Linked DNA regions of Homo sapiens. The protein of the gene in region 1 purifies or fractionates together with the protein of each later gene. This does not show direct contact. Each region holds a gene or a part of one and is shown in the gene's direction. Other genes may lie near its edges.

The links. The genes of interacting proteins can lie anywhere in the genome.
Region 2: the proteins of NEK10 (region 1) and CS purify together in Homo sapiens (co-immunoprecipitation; one large-scale study listed by IntAct). This does not show direct contact.
Region 3: the proteins of NEK10 (region 1) and ST13 purify together in Homo sapiens (co-immunoprecipitation; one large-scale study listed by IntAct). This does not show direct contact.
Region 4: the proteins of NEK10 (region 1) and KIAA0586 purify together in Homo sapiens (affinity purification with mass spectrometry; one large-scale study listed by BioGRID and IntAct). This does not show direct contact.

The regions. Positions count from the first base shown.
Region 1 is NC_000003.12:27,306,730-27,310,452, reverse strand, and holds part of NEK10 (serine/threonine-protein kinase Nek10), read left to right. Parts: intron 1-1,447; coding exon 1,448-1,527; intron 1,528-2,507; coding exon 2,508-2,594; intron 2,595-3,723. UniProt on the Homo sapiens protein: Plays a role in the cellular response to UV irradiation. Mediates G2/M cell cycle arrest, MEK autoactivation and ERK1/2-signaling pathway activation in response to UV irradiation.
Region 2 is NC_000012.12:56,276,135-56,279,857, reverse strand, and holds part of CS (citrate synthase, mitochondrial precursor), read left to right. Parts: intron 1-3,662; coding exon 3,663-3,723. UniProt on the Homo sapiens protein: Key enzyme of the Krebs tricarboxylic acid cycle which catalyzes the synthesis of citrate from acetyl coenzyme A and oxaloacetate.
Region 3 is NC_000022.11:40,853,644-40,858,011, reverse strand, and holds the start of ST13 (hsc70-interacting protein), read left to right. Parts: upstream 1-1,372; 5' UTR 1,373-1,471; coding exon 1,472-1,581; intron 1,582-4,368. Other genes in the region: XPNPEP3 (xaa-Pro aminopeptidase 3), read right to left, coding at 767-830. UniProt on the Homo sapiens protein: One HIP oligomer binds the ATPase domains of at least two HSC70 molecules dependent on activation of the HSC70 ATPase by HSP40. Stabilizes the ADP state of HSC70 that has a high affinity for substrate protein.
Region 4 is NC_000014.9:58,430,692-58,434,414, forward strand, and holds part of KIAA0586 (protein TALPID3), read left to right. Parts: coding exon 1-26; intron 27-1,696; coding exon 1,697-1,766; intron 1,767-3,723. UniProt on the Homo sapiens protein: Required for ciliogenesis and sonic hedgehog/SHH signaling. Required for the centrosomal recruitment of RAB8A and for the targeting of centriole satellite proteins to centrosomes such as of PCM1.

The DNA.
Region 1 (3,723 bases):
GTTTCATATCCCGGGAAGCCACTTTCTAGTGTATATGGGAGCAAGATTGCCTAAAATGTGTTAACACATGCTGCTCATGGTCTAGAGGATGATTCTAGGTGATACACAGGTCAACATTTTTTGTTTCAGTAGCCAGCTATTTCACAGGTATTATTGCTTACAATTGGAAAAAATTTTTTTGAGTTAACATTAAAGATGTTAGTTGAATATGGCAAAAAATGTGAAAATGATATGTAATGGATTGAAGTTTGGGAAACATTAGAAGACAGAGAAGAAAGAGAGAAGAAAAAGAGGAAAGGATCAGACAAATAAAGATAATGATAACTTCATTAAGATAAAATGAAATCATAAAGGCAAAAAATCCATATACTGGAAACATAAAAATTACCTTAGCCGTTGTTGCGCAGGTTGCAGCTCTGACCTGAGACATTTTGGGAGGCACTTTTCAGGGGCACTCCGCATTCTGAAAATGTAGAGAATTTTCCAAATAAGAAAATTTGCCTTAACGAGAATTCAGGGAAAGCCACTGACAAGCTACAGACTTCCAGCTAAGTCATGTTAGTTAGGATGATGCTTGGGAGCATCAGTGATGCACTTTCAACATCAATTAGAAATCTGGGAGGCAAATGGAATGCTCGATAGTATTCATATCTTGTTTAGTTTGGCAAAAGAATGAAAGTTTCAATATTTTGTTGAAAAATCGTTTCATAATTTGGAAAGTGCCTAGCACAATGCCTGGCTCAAAGTGAGTTCTCAATGGCTGATCACTACCACTATTGTAATTTATGTCATTAATCTTCCTGGTTCTTCCCAGCGTGGGATCAGAAGGGGGAGAGAATACTTGGGCACATGGAAATAGAAGGATGTATGAGAACCAGGCTGGTCATGTAGCTTGATGCCTTTTCTTCCTGTCCTGGGCAAGGAATGGCTACAAGAGGTTACTATCAAGAGTTCCAAAGTAAGGAGAGATGGACTCCTGCCATCTGTAAAGAACTGGATATTTTGAATGTTTAATAAAACTCTTTTTAAGATAAACTTTTATATTGACTGCAAAAAATAAAAAGGAAGCTGCATAAGGCTTGATAGGGCATAATTTTTTTCACTATTCTATGGGTAAAGCCATAATAAAATAAACAACTTGATTATATTGACAAAAAGTGTTTATAAAGATATATTTAATGCCATGAAAAAATTTCAGTAGATAACATTAAGAAAAAAACATAAGAGAGAGCAGCTTTAACATTATATATAGTTTGTGCTTAATTGTATATGCACATACATTATAAACTACTAAGCAAAAAAAAAAAACAGTTAAGCCTATATGATCTTAAGAGGGAAGCATTTTGTCATTCAAGCAGCTGGTAATGGAAAATAAATTAATGTTAATGTTGAAAAAAGAAGCTTGTAGTACTTATATAATTAAACTTTATTTTACTTCATTTTTCAGACATTAGTAAATTTACTTGGTGCCCGAGATACTAATGTTCTATTGGGTTCCCTTCTGGCTCTGGCTAGTTTAGCAGAAAGGTAAGTAGTGTATTCTAATATACTTTCCAGTTCTGCTACTATAGCAATTTAGGTGGTAAGGATGCAAAATAATCAGTTACTTTGTCAACTACTTAATACAATTTCTTGATAAATAAGTGTGAAATAACATGTTGAAGAGAATCCTGGATAGAAGGCATTATTTAAAAATTTAAACTGGAAAGGCAAATTGCAGTTTAAAATTTTCTTTTTATTTCCTGACTGGAAATATTTAGTCTTTTCATCTAACCCTCAGTTACTTCTAATTTCAAAATTACCATAATATTTCTTTGGCAGTTGAATCTTTCTGACCATCTTAATTCATTCTTACCTGTGAATTTTAACATACAGAACGTTTTCAAACATCTGTGGGCTTTGAAAAATTTTCAAGAAGATCTTTCCTCTTATAAATGTCATGATTATTTTAAATGTTTTTATGACAATAAGTGGACCATTGCTTTTCTGTGAATAACATATGATTCCTTTTGTTTTTTGATCTCTTCTCCCAAGATAATATTGGAGCTAGGATATTAAATAAATAAATTTATATGGTTAGGCTTTGTGTCCCCAACCAAATCTCATCTTGAATTGTAATCCCTGTAATCCCCATAATTCCCTCATGTCAAGGGAGAGACCAGGTGGAGGTCATTGAATCATGGGGCCATTTCCTCCATGCTGTTCTCATGATAGTGAGTGAGTTCTCATGAGATCTGATGGTTTTATAAGGGGCTCTTCCCCCTTGGCTCGGCACTTATCCTTCCTGCTGCCTTGTGAAGAAGGTGCCTTGCTTCTCCTTTATCTTCCACCATGACTGTAAGTTTCCTGAGGCCTCCCTAGCCATGCTGAACTGTGAGTCAAGTAAACCTCTTTCCTTTATAAATCACCCAGTCTCAGGCAGTTCTTTATACCAGTTTGAAAAAGGACTAATACATGGATCTAGCAAAATATGCTTTTAGTAATTGCTAATATTTTTCAATTTATAGTCAAGAATGTAGGGAGAAGATAAGTGAACTCAACATTGTAGAAAATCTGTTGATGATTTTACATGAATATGACTTGCTTTCTAAAAGGTAGGATTGCTAACAGTAGAAAAAGACAATGCAGTGCCTTTATTTGACAGATACACTTGTTATTATTTTTATTACGTCATGTTATTTACATTGTAACTGAATATGATGAGTCAGCTTGGCATTTATTTTCTGTTTAAGTTTATATAAAGAAAATAGAGCAAAGAAGTATATCCATTTATGTTTAGTCCTGCATTACTTCTAGATCTGGGCATAGAAGCTGATGAAATAAATTTTTGTGATATCATTTTTAATGTTTTGTTTATTGCATTTATTTATATCCTGCCTTTTTAGGGAAAGAAACTCTGAGGTGGCTCTAGTTTTAGTAATTTCAAATTGTATATTACAATAAGTGATTAGGTTGCTAAAATCCATTTGCATGAAGGCAAGTAAAATAAGATAGCAACTGACTTGTTTTGTGATCACCTGCTATGATAACTCAAAATCTAGAGTAAAATGGATTCATTTTTACTTGAACTGCATATTGTTCTAATAACTATCCAGATAGTTATTAGATTGTACTTAAATAGAGTTGCAATCTATATCATTTGATATTTAGTTGAGTAATTTTCTAAAGAGGCAAAATAGATAAAAAGAAATCTCCAGCAATGGAGCCCTGACACTTAACTCATAGTAAATCCTTTTGGATTCTTCTTCAAAACTCTCATAAAAGAGCATTAAATATAGATAATACTTATAGACTTGGTTATCTGAACAAACAAGGTTCCAAGCTTGGTACCAGGTGTTGAAAACCAAAGATGAATAAGTTATAAATATGTAGTGTAGAAGAGGGTCAAACAGTGCTATAACTGATACGGTAGACAGATGCACAGGGTACTCTGGGAACATGGAGCAGAGACTTCCCAATTAGAATGTGGAGTCATGCAAAGTTTCCTGGAGGAAAGAGAAGATATCTAGGCAGAGAGAGAGAGACAACATAAAAACAGTATGTGCTTGGACATGGAGGCATGAAATTGGGTGTGTTAGAGGAATGTGATGGTTGGGCACAGCAGGACCATAAGAACAAAAGTGCCAGAGAACTAGAACAGATAGTTAATGATAAATTTAAAATGTAGCTAACTTTGATCAGTGTTTTCTATATGCCAAGACCTGCTCTAAGCACTTTGCTTAT
Region 2 (3,723 bases), on another chromosome or scaffold:
TAGCTGGGACTACAGGTGCGCACCACCACGCCTGGCTAATTTTTGGTTTTTGCTTTTTTGCTTTTGTTTTGTTTTTTTTTGGTTTTTTTTTTGAGATGGAGTCTCGCTCTGTTGCCCAGGCTGGAGTGCAGTGGTGCGATCTCAGCTGATTGCAAGCTCCGCCTCCCTGGTTCAAGCAATTCTCCTGCCTCAGCCTCCCGAGTAGTTGGGACTACAGGCACCCGCCACCATGCCTGGCTAATTTTTTGTATTTTTAGTAGAGTCGGGGTTTCACCGTGTTAGCCAGGATTGTCTCGATCTCCTGACCTCGTGATCCACCCGCCTCAGCCTCCAAAAGTGCTGGGATTACAGGCGTGAGCCACCGCGCCTGGCCTTGTGTTTTTAATAGAGACGGGGTTTCACTGTGTTGGCCAGGCTGATCTTGAACTCCTGACCTTGTGATCTGCCTGCCTCGGCCTCACAAAGTGCTGGGGATTATAGGAGTGAGCCATGGTGCCCAGCCTTCTTGAGCTTTTAAGGAGTTGTTTTTACATATACCTTAAGAGGATGATCTTCTGCACAGAACATTTCTTCTATAATAATTTCCATTAACTCTAGATGAATAGTGTAATCTCTTGAGTTGAAAGAGTTTAACTAGCTTCTAGGCCTCTAATTGACTTAAGGTCACTCAGAACAAGGAGATTGATTGCTCTGATGCAACCAGCTGTTTAATTGTGAAGTAGCCTTAAGCTGTTGAATTTAGTCAAATTTGTGAAGTAGCTGACAGATCAAGTTTTGCTAGTAGGCCAGGCGTGGGGACTCATGCTTGTAATCCCAGCACTTTGGGAGGCCAAGGCAGGCAGATCACTTGAGGTCAGGAGTTCAAGACCAGTCTGGCCAACATGGCGAAACCCCATCTCTACAAAATAATACAAAAATTAGCTGAGCGTCCTGGTGCACACCTGTAATCCCAACTACTCAGGAGGCCGAGGTGGGAGAATCGCTTGAACCTAGGAGGCAGAGGTTGCAGTGAGCCAAGATAGCACCACTACACTCCAGCCTGGGTGACAGAGCGAGACTTTGTCTCAAAATAAAATAAACCAAAAATATATGCTTTTTATTTACCAACTTTTTTTTTTTTTTTCCGAGACAGAGTCTCTGTCGCTCAGGCTGCAGTGCAGTGGCACGACCTCGGCTCACTGCAACCTCCGCCTCCCAGGTTCAAGCAATTTTCCTGCCTTGGCCTCCCGAGTAGCTGGGACCACAGGTGCAAGCCACCACGCCCATCTAATTTTTGTATTTTTAGTAGAGATGGGGTTTTGCCTTGTTGGCCAGGATGGTCTTGATCTGTTGACCTCTTGATCCGCGCTCCTCAGCCTCCCAAAGTTCTGGGATTACAGGTGTGAGCCACCGTGCTTGGCCTGTTTATCAACTTTTTAAAAAGTGACATGGGCTGGGTGCAGTGGCTCACGCCTGTAATCTCAGCACTTTGGGAGGCCGAGGAAGGTGGATAACCTGAGGTCAGGAGTTTGAGACCGGCCTGGCCAATATGGTGAAACCCCATCTCTACTAAAGATACAAAAAATTAGGCATGGTGGCGCACGCCTGTAATCCCAGCTACTCAGAAGGCCAAGGCACAAGAATCGCTTGAACCCCGGAGGCGGAGGTTGCAGTGAGCTGAGATCGCACCATTGCACTCCAGCCTGGGCGACAGGGTGAGACTCCGTCTCAAAAAATAAAAGTGGCATGAGTTAATAATGTAAGCTAGGTAACGCTTCTTGGCTACATGGGTGACCTTGTGCAAGTTAACTTAGCTAAGCCCCAATTTCCTCATTTATAAAAAGAGGTATATGTTACCTTACAGGATTATTGTAAGAAAAGAAAAAGTAATACTGCAAATAGATAGCACAGTACCTGTTGCATAGTAAGTGCTTAAAGAATGGAAGCCTCGGCCGGGTGCGGTGGCTCACTCCTGTAATCCCAGAACTTTGAGGGGCCAAGGTGGGCAAATCACCTGAGGTCGGGAGTTCAAGACTAACCTGACCAACATGGTGAAACCCCCCTCTACTAAAAATACAAAATTAAGCCAGGCATGGTGGTGCATCCTGTAATCTCAGCTACTCAGGAGGCTGAGGCAGGAGAATGGCGTGAACCCGGGAGGCGGAGCTTGCAGTGAGCCGAGATCGCGCCACTGTACTCCAGCCTCGGCGACAGAGCGAGAATCCATCTCAAAAAAAAAAAAAAAAAAGAATGGAAGTCTTTGTTATTAAATAACAATTGCATATCACTGTTTGATCCTTGGCACATACAGTGAATTTTCTTTGAAAGATGGAACATAGAATTCATTATTAAAACCTAGTGTCTTTTTTTTTTATTTTTTGAGACGGAGTCTCACTCTGTCGCCCAGGCTGGAGTACAGTGGCACGATCTTGGCTCACTGCAAGCTCCACCTGCCAGATTCACGCCATTCTCCTGCCTCAGCCTCCCGAGTAGCTGGGACTACAGGCGCCCACCACCACGCCTGGCTAATTTTTTGTATTTTTAGTAGAGACGGGGTTTCACCGTGTTAGCCAGGATGGTCTCGATCTCCTGACCTCATGATCTGCCTGCCTCGGCCTCCGAAAGTGCTGGGATTACAGGCATGAGCCACTGTGCCCGACCCCTTTTTTTTTTTTTAGACAGAGTCTCGCTCTGTGGTCCAGGCTGGAGTGCAGTGGCACTATCTCGGCTCACTGCAACCTCCACCTCCCGGGTTCAAGCAATTCTCCTGCCTCAGCCTCCCGAGTAGCTGGGATTATAGGCGCCGGCCCACACCACGCCTGGCTGATTTTTTGTGTTTTTAGAAGAGACCAGGTTTCACCATGTTGGCCAGGCTGGTCTTGAACTCCTGACCTCAAATGATCTGCCAGCCTCAGCCTCCCAAAGTGCTGGCATTATAGGCATGAGCTGCCGTGTCTGGCTGTAAAACCTGCTGTCTTAACACATTGAACGTCAAGTCATGGTGTAGTGAAAAAGATCATGATTAAACATATCAGAGGGCCAGGCATGGTGGCTCACACCTATAATCCCAGCACTTTGGGAGGCCAAGGCAGGCAGATCACCTGAGGTCGGGAGTTTCTAGACTAGCCTAACCAACATGGAGAAACCCCGTCTCTACTAAAAATACAAAATTAGCCGGGTATGGTGGCACATGCCTGTAATCCCAGCTACTCAGGAGGCTGAGGCAGGAGAATCACTTGAACTTGGGAGGCGGAGGTTGCAGTGAGCTAAGATTGCGCCATTGCACTCCAGCCTGGGCAACAAGAGTGAAACTCTGTCTCAGAAAACCATATCAGAGTTCAAACTTGACTTTAGCATTTAACCTAATACTATGAGCCTTAGTTTACTCATCTTTAAAATGGCAGTCATTATATACTTTGTAGTAGTAAGCATTGGGAATAATGTTTTAGTGTACATTAGATAGTATTACAAATCACTTAGTGCCTGGGTCATAATAGTTATTCAGTGAAATGGTTATGATTGTTATTCTCTACTTTCAAACATACTCAATATATAACAACCCATCATATAACTAACCATCAACCCAAATAGCCCCAATTCATGGAGGACAGACGATATCCCTGCCTAATTCTTCTTTGCTGATAATTCCTTTTTTTTTCTCCATCTTGCTCCTCTTCTGTCAGTTGATTTATGAAGACTCTATGGATCTAATCGCAAAGCTACCTTGTGTTGCAGCAAAGATCT
Region 3 (4,368 bases), on another chromosome or scaffold:
CTTTTTATTTTTTATAGTAAGAAGTCGATGTAATTAACATTCCATTTTAAATGAATTCAAGTATATCAACATAAACATATGCCAAGACATAGCTTTGATGTCAAATACCATACGTTCTGGTTCACACATTGTTCATATATTGACCCAAAAAACTGAAATACGATCCAATGGCAGATCCGCCTGCAAGGAAGGTGATTCAGTTTTCACTGATTAAGCTTTATGTTCATCAGATTAATTGCTCGCAATAGAGGACACCCTACAAAAAATTATTCTCCTTATCCTTCGTCTTGTCTTTGCAAACAGGACTTTCAGACACAGAACGCCCCAGAAGTATTTCGAAACAGTTACCTCTCCTAAGAGGAGCTGCTGAAAGAATTTGTTACTAAACATGCTTCGTGTATATTCTGGAGCAAGCTCTCACGCCTAACAGAAACAAGAGCTACTTGATGTGAGACACTTTGTCACTTAAGTGTGATAATTGCCACAACTTCGGAGTCCGAGTAACTTGGAAGACAGCCCCTCTGGGGGATGGCACACTTTTCTCTCTGCAGTCATTTCGGCTTCACAAAATACCTCAACGGTAGAGAACACACTGGGCCCACCCCTTTCCAGGAGCAGCCGGTATAGAAGAAATCCGCGGAGCACAGAGGGTTGGGGAGCGGAGGCCCCACCAGGAGAAGGGTCAGCCGAACCAGGGATCGCCTGAGACCAACTTGGGTCCCTCCAGGGGACACCATGGGAGGAGACCGTGGGAGAAGAGTCTAACCTGAGAGGCCGCGGACGTTTGCTACAGCGGGAACCAGCTTGGGGGCTGAGAGCAGCCAAGGCATTACGGCCTAACTCACGCGTCGGGAAGAGAAAGAGGGTAACGACGGGGAACGCAACCGCCTGCAGGGCCGCGTCGCCAGGAAACCGGGCCAGCCGCACCTCCCCTTCCGGCGGAGGCGGCTCGCGGGCCTTCCTTGCGCGGCGGCGCAGGTTGTGACGTCATGCCCCGAGCTGGGACCGACCCTCCGGCTCCACGCCCTTTTTTTTTTTTTTTTTTAGGTCCCGGGCGTTGAGCTCTACTCAGTGCACGCAGCCACACAATATGCTCTTGGACGTCGCCCCCTGGAGGGGATGTTATCTCCCGCCTCCTTGAAGTCGCCCATTTCTGGGGTTGCCCCATCCAGGGAGCTGGTTCCTAGTTAAGAATATGAGAATGTATGCGCAGGGAGGCAGGCAACAGCACGAACAGCCACGCTTCTAGAAGATTCTAGGGAGCGCGCAGGAGCAGCGCAGAGGGAGTAGGAATGAGCAGGCGGAGGACCCGAGGTCACGAGACCGTTGGGTGGGAGGAGCCAGCGGCCGGGGAGGTTCTAGTCTGTTCTGTCTTGCGGCAGCCGCCCCCTTCTGCGCGGTCACGCCGAGCCAGCGCCTGGGCCTGGAACCGGGCCGTAGCCCCCCCAGTTTCGCCCACCACCTCCCTACCATGGACCCCCGCAAAGTGAACGAGCTTCGGGCCTTTGTGAAAATGTGTAAGCAGGATCCGAGCGTTCTGCACACCGAGGAAATGCGCTTCCTGAGGGAGTGGGTGGAGAGGTGAGACCCAGGCCTGAGGACCGTTGGGGGCGGGGGAAGCACGGCCCCAGGGGGGAGCCAGGCTGGACCTGGCTCGGTCCGGCGGGCGAGGCGGGGTCGCTGCCCCTTCTTTGCCCGGGAAAGGGAGGCAACTTCGAGGGGTCATGGAAGATCGCGAGCCTTGGGTAGTACAGGAGCCGCGGGGAGCAGGAGGCAGAGCTGGGTTCCTCGCACCCTGAGGTTGCCCAGGGGTGTATCTTGGGCGAAATACAAAAACAGGACTGCGGATGCGTGGACACTGGAGACGCGAGGAGTGAAAACTGCAAGACTTAGATTTTGCGTGGGGTTGTTTTTCTTTCAGTCTTGTGTGCCCTGCTCAGGTCTCATTGGTACATAGCAGTTCCTTTACGCACTATTCCTTTACGTCGTGTTATAATAATATAACACTAGTAAGTTAAAAGTTACAAAACTAGTAAGAATAAAAATGATAACTGTAAAAATGATTGTTTTTACCTTACAGCGTTTGTAGCTGCGTAGGATTAATTATCTTGAGAATCACTTATTATACCTCCGTTACTTGGCAGTGTTATCACTCCAAACACGTCTGAGAAAAATAATTTCTTAAGGCCTGGCATGTTTCCAGGATATAATCTTGTTGTCTTTAACTGTAGAGTACTTCGCTACGTGCAAGGAGTTAATTGACAAGGCATTGTGCCTGGTGCTAGGAAACAGTATAAGTACTGTCTATTTAGACGAATAAATAGAAAAGTTCGTTTTGATATTTACTATATAATAGTAATTAGCATTTTATGTGTTGAAGGAGCACCGAAGAGAAAAAGTGACAGGGAAGTCTTCCCTAAGATGACTTTTTAAAAAATTATTACTAATGGGGAACTGAAAAGATGACATACAAATTGCACTAAACAGGGATAAATAGCAACTATGCAGACCATTGCGACTCCTAAGAGGTGCTGCTGTGAACGTTATGTGTTTAGTGACTTTTGTCTTTTAGAGACAGGGTTTGGCTGTATTGTCCAGGCCGCATACAGTGGCGGGATCACTGCAGCCTCCAATTCCTGGGCACAAGCGATCCTCCTGCATCAGTCTCCCAGGTGGCTAGCAGTGCGGGATCGAGCCACCATACTTGGCTAATTTAATTTTTTTGTAGAGATGGGGGTCCCATTAAGTTGCCCAGGCTTGTCTTGAACTCCTGGCCTCAAGGGACTCCCCCGCCTCCCAAAGTGGTGGTATTACAGGCGTGAGCCACTTCACCCAGCGTGATATTTTTGTGTGGGAAGATGAGCTCATGATTACCAAATAGCTCAAAGAATATTTCTTAACAACAATCTGGTTCTAAGGAAAAAACTCGTTACAATCTGTCAGCGTTGTATGTTGTATTTTTTTCCTCTAAGAAGTTTTTCAATTTTTAGCTCCCCACCAATTGTCTAACTACTGGAAGACTTACTTATATGTGAAATTCTGAGACCATTTAATATTACTATGTTAATAGTAACTTTATGAATATTGGTAAGAAGTCTATTTTGCAAACTCCTCAACCGGGAAATGTCAGGATTAGGAATTGAGGGCTAGGTTTTAGTCGTTTTCTCTATTGAACAGCTTGATGATCCAAAAGCCTTAAGATATTTGTATGCTTTTATCCTAATTATAGGAAAGAACCTGCAGTTAATAAATTCTTTCTAAAATTCCAGGTAACGTAGACAAGTATCACAGGAAGAAAATAGCCGGCTCCAAGAGCTGGCTCCACTTTACATTAAGTGGATACAATGTTTTTGTTTCATTCTTACTAGTGAGGAAGAGGAGACACAGAAGAACAAATTAAAAGCATGTGTAAGAACAGTGTCCTCCTGACTTGTGCTGGAGTGATTGTGCCTATGTAGAGAATTCCACTTTAAGGTTTGCAAAATATTTGTCAGGCACTACTATCTCCCAAACAAAAACAAGAAATAGTCATATACCTTATTTTAACATAGGTAATTCCAGTTTTTCTTTCTGATTCCACTTACATTCTTTAGCCATCCTGAGTTGGCTGAAGTATGGGGTGAAGCATCATGGCATATGTAGGGACTTTATTCTGAACTTAAATTGAGATATTTAATATAGAAGCTTTTTCTCTTTATTTCTGTATTTAAACTAAGATTTTTATAAACTCTGAGGCCTTTGCGTTTGTGTCAGTTTCTCTCTCTGCCTTCATCAGTCTGCAGTTCGAGATTGTGGCAGATGGGGCTGAATGTGGAGACTTCTAGGTCCAGACGTCTTCCTAGGCCTGATGCTACTGTTAGGGTTACTCAAGTTGAAAACATGTGTTTCTCACAGGCTTAGCTGTTGAAGAACAGTACATCTGCCTATTTGCTATAATTGCTAGCATTGTTTATAGCTTAGTTTTATTTGATATAAGGATTTATTAGTTTAACCTTTTAAATTGCACAAAGAGAAATACTAAAAGTCTTTCTGAACTAGTTGTCAGTGAGGATCCAGGAGACTGTTCTTTTCAAGAACTGTGTTTTGAGATATTTTTGTTTTTCCCTTTTTAGAGACAGAAGCATTCTCCCACTCTATTTTCTCCCGTTTAACAATTTAGTATCTTGTATGTGGTTTCATGGCTTTACTTGATGGTAATTAAGATCGAAGAGAGTGTCTTTGTTTTCTACTCCCTAGTACAGTACGTGGCACATGGCTTTTCCTAAATGTTGTAAAGGAAATGAACAGAATGCATTTCTACCCTCAATATAGAATTTAGAGTGTAGCAACCAATTTTTTGTACATGTGTACAAATAACCATAGCACAAA
Region 4 (3,723 bases), on another chromosome or scaffold:
AATAGAAGAGAACAACAAGCAAAAAGGTAAAAGAATAATATTGATTTTTTTAAATTGTGACAACATATACATAACATAAAGTTTACTACTTTAAAATGTACAGTTCTGTGACAGTAAGTACATTCACATTGTTGTACAATCATCATCACCTTTCATATCCAGAGCTTTGTCATCTCTCCCAACTCTACCCATTAAACACTAACTGCTCATTTTTCATCCCCTCAGCCCTGGGCATCCTACTTTTTGTCTCTATGAATTTGACTACCCTAGGTACGTTATATAAGTAGAATCATATAGTATTTGACCTTTTGTGACTGGCTTATTTCACTTAGCATAATGTTTTAAAGGTTCATCCATGTTGTAGTATGTGTCAGAATTTTCTTCTTAAGGGTAGAATTTATTTTTAAACATTTATTACGTAGTCTTATAGTTTTTATTATTTTCATTTTAAATTAGTTTTTCTTCCCAAATTAAGCTATCACTAGAAGCTATAAAATCCAGAATAAGGTTTGCAATGGTGAAGGTTATCTTGTTATTACCAACCTATTGCAGAGGTTTAGTATTAGATATGTTTATAAATTTTTTTTTTGAGACGGAGTCTCCCTCTGTTGTCCAGGCTGGGGTGCAGTGGCGTAATCTCAGCTCACTGCAACCTCCAGCTCCCGGGTTCAAGCAATTGTCCTGCCTCAGCCTCCTGAGTAGCTGGGATTACAGGTGCACACCACCACACCCAGCTAATTTTTCTATTTTTTTTTTGTAGAGACAGGGTTTCACCATCTTGACCAGACTGGTCTCAAACTCCTGACCTCAAGTGATCTGCCTACCTCAGCCTCCTAAAGTGTTGGGATTACAGGCGTGAGCCACCGTGTCTGGCTCCATATGAATTTTAAAATAGTTTTTTCTAATTCTGTGAAAAATGATGTTGGTAATTGAATAGGAATTGCATTGAATCTGTAGATGGCTTTGGGCAGTATGGTCATTTTAACGATATTGATTTTTCTAATTCATGAGCATGGAATGTTTTCCACTTATTTGTGTCATCTGTGATTTTTTTCATCAGTGTTTTATAGTTCTCCTTGTAGAGATCTTTCACCTTCTTGATTAAATGTATTCCTAGGAATTTTATTTTTTGTGTGCCGCTGTTGTAAATGGCATTGAGTTCTTGATTTCATTCTCAGCTTGAATGTTATTAGTGTATAGAAACGCTACTGATTTTTGTACGTTGATTTTGTATCCTGAAACTTTACTTAAGTCATTTATCAGATCTAGGGGCATTTTGTAGGAATCTTTAGGGTTTTCTAGGTATAGGACCATGTCATCAGTGAACAGAGGTAATTGGACTTCCTTTTACTTTTTGGATGCCTTTTCTTTCTTTCTCTGTCTGATTGCTCTGGCTGGGACTTCCACTACTGTATTGAAAAGAGTGGTAAGAGTGGGCATCCTTGTCTTGTTCTAGTTCTTAGGGGGAATGTGTTCAACTTTTGCCCGTTCAGTATGATGTTGGCTGTGGGTTTGGGATTATGAGGATTATATTATTACTTAATCACTTAATTTGTTCCTTGTCCTTTTCGATCGTGGAATGCTATGGCTGAGTTCCTAAACATTCTTTTAGTTAAAAAAGATTTTTTTAGTAGCTTATTAAAGTTTAATAAATATTCAGGAATTTAATATATATTTTTGTGTCTTGATTTTGCAGCAAATGACATCTTCATTTCTCAGTATACAATGGGACAGAAAGATGCTCTAAGAACAGTTTTAAAGCAAAAGTAAGTTTCATTTACAGAAAATAATTGGACCATTTCTTATGTAAATCAGCTTCATTTGTACTTTGGACATATGAAAAACCTTTTCACTATGTGAAATATATATTGTGTGATATGTATAAAGCATTTCTCATGGTGCTAGACACGTATAAAATACTCAGTAGCAGTTAGCAGTTATTATTATGGAAGTGCTATAGTATTAACTCATTTAACACACTTATAAAATAGATTTACTATCCCAATTTTATAGAATCCCCATTTTCTTTTATTTATTTATTTATTTAGAGATGGAGTCTCGCGTCGCCCAGGCTGGAGTGCAGTGGCACAATCTCGGCTCACTGCAACCTCTGCCTCCCAGGTTCAAGCAATCTCCTGCCTCAGTCTCCCAAGTAGCTGGGATTACAGGCACCTGCCATCATGCCCAGCTAATTTTTGTATATTTGTAGAGATGGGGTTTCACTATGTTGGCCAGGCTGGTCTTGAACTCCTGGCCTCAGGTGATCTACCTGCTTCGGCCCTGCAAAGTGCTGGGGTTACAGGCGTGAGCCAGTGCGCCCTGTGGTTAATTTAATTTTGCGTTAGAATCTAAGGAAGAGCCACACTTTACATTTGAATGATATGTCTCTTAAGTTTGTTTTTGTTTTTGTTTTTTTTAAGACAGGGTCTCGCTCTGTTGCCTAGGCTGGACTGCAACCTCCACCTCCTGGGTTCAAACAATTCTCCTGCCTCAGCCTCCTGAGTAGCTGGGATTACAGGCACACACTACCACGCCTGGCTATTATTTGTATTTTTAGTAGAGATGAGGTTTCACCATGTTGGTTAGGCTGGTCTCAAACTCCTGACCTCAGGTGATCCGCCCACCTTGGTCTCCCACAGTGCTGGGATTACAGGTGTGAGCCACCATGATCAGCCTTCAGTTTGTTTTAATCTACAGATTTACCCTTATTTCGTTTTTCTTATAATTTGTTTGTCTTAAGAAATTTTCTACCTTCTGGATTTTGCTGAATGTATCCTTTTGTTGTCTTTAACATGTTTCTTTCAACCTTGAATTTCTGTCAAGTGGCAAGAATGCTTGATAGGTGATATTATATACTTCCTGTGTAATACATCGGGATACATAGATATCTGATTTTATCTCTTATTGTGAAATTAGGATTGATCTGTTAATACACCACCTTTTTGTATCAAATTACAGCATATGGAAATTTGAGGACAAAGAGTCTAAACAGTCAATTTTAGAAATTTAGCAGGAAAATAATTTCTTATAAAAGCTGAAGGAAGCTGGGCATGGTGGCTCATGCCTGTAGTCCTAGCACTTTGGGAGTCCAAGACAGGAGGATCACTTGAGCCCAAGAGTTTGAGACCAGTCTGGGCAATATAGCTAATTTTTTTAAATTAGCCAGATATGGTGGTGTGTGCCTGTAGTCCCAGGTACTTGGGAGGCTGAGGTGGAAGGATCACTTGGGCCTAGGAGTTTGAGGATGCCATGAGCCATGTTCATGCCACTGCACTCCAGCCTGGGTGACAGAATGAGACCCCGTCTCATCAGAAAAATAGGGAGACAGACAGACAGACAGATGCTGAATGATAGGAAAAAAGCAGGGAAAGCAGAAGAAATCAAGTATACCAGATAAAAGAAAACATAAACACAGTAGAATGTTTTCAACTAGTTCTAGAAGTACGTCAGTGTAATAAGCAAATCTTGGACAAGTCTAAGTCAGAAAACTGGTGAGAGAATGCATGTTAGAAGTAAAAAGAGGACATAATGATAGACTTAGAAGGTATTAAGAATACAGTGTATTAAGAATACTGTGTACATGAATGCTACAAATTAAGAAATCTAGATGAAAGAAATAACTCACCAAAAATAACCATATAACTAAGAAGATTTTAATAGGCCAGTTACTGGGAAATAAATTTAAAAAAAACCTTCAAAGAGCAATCTCCAAAAGCAGTCATG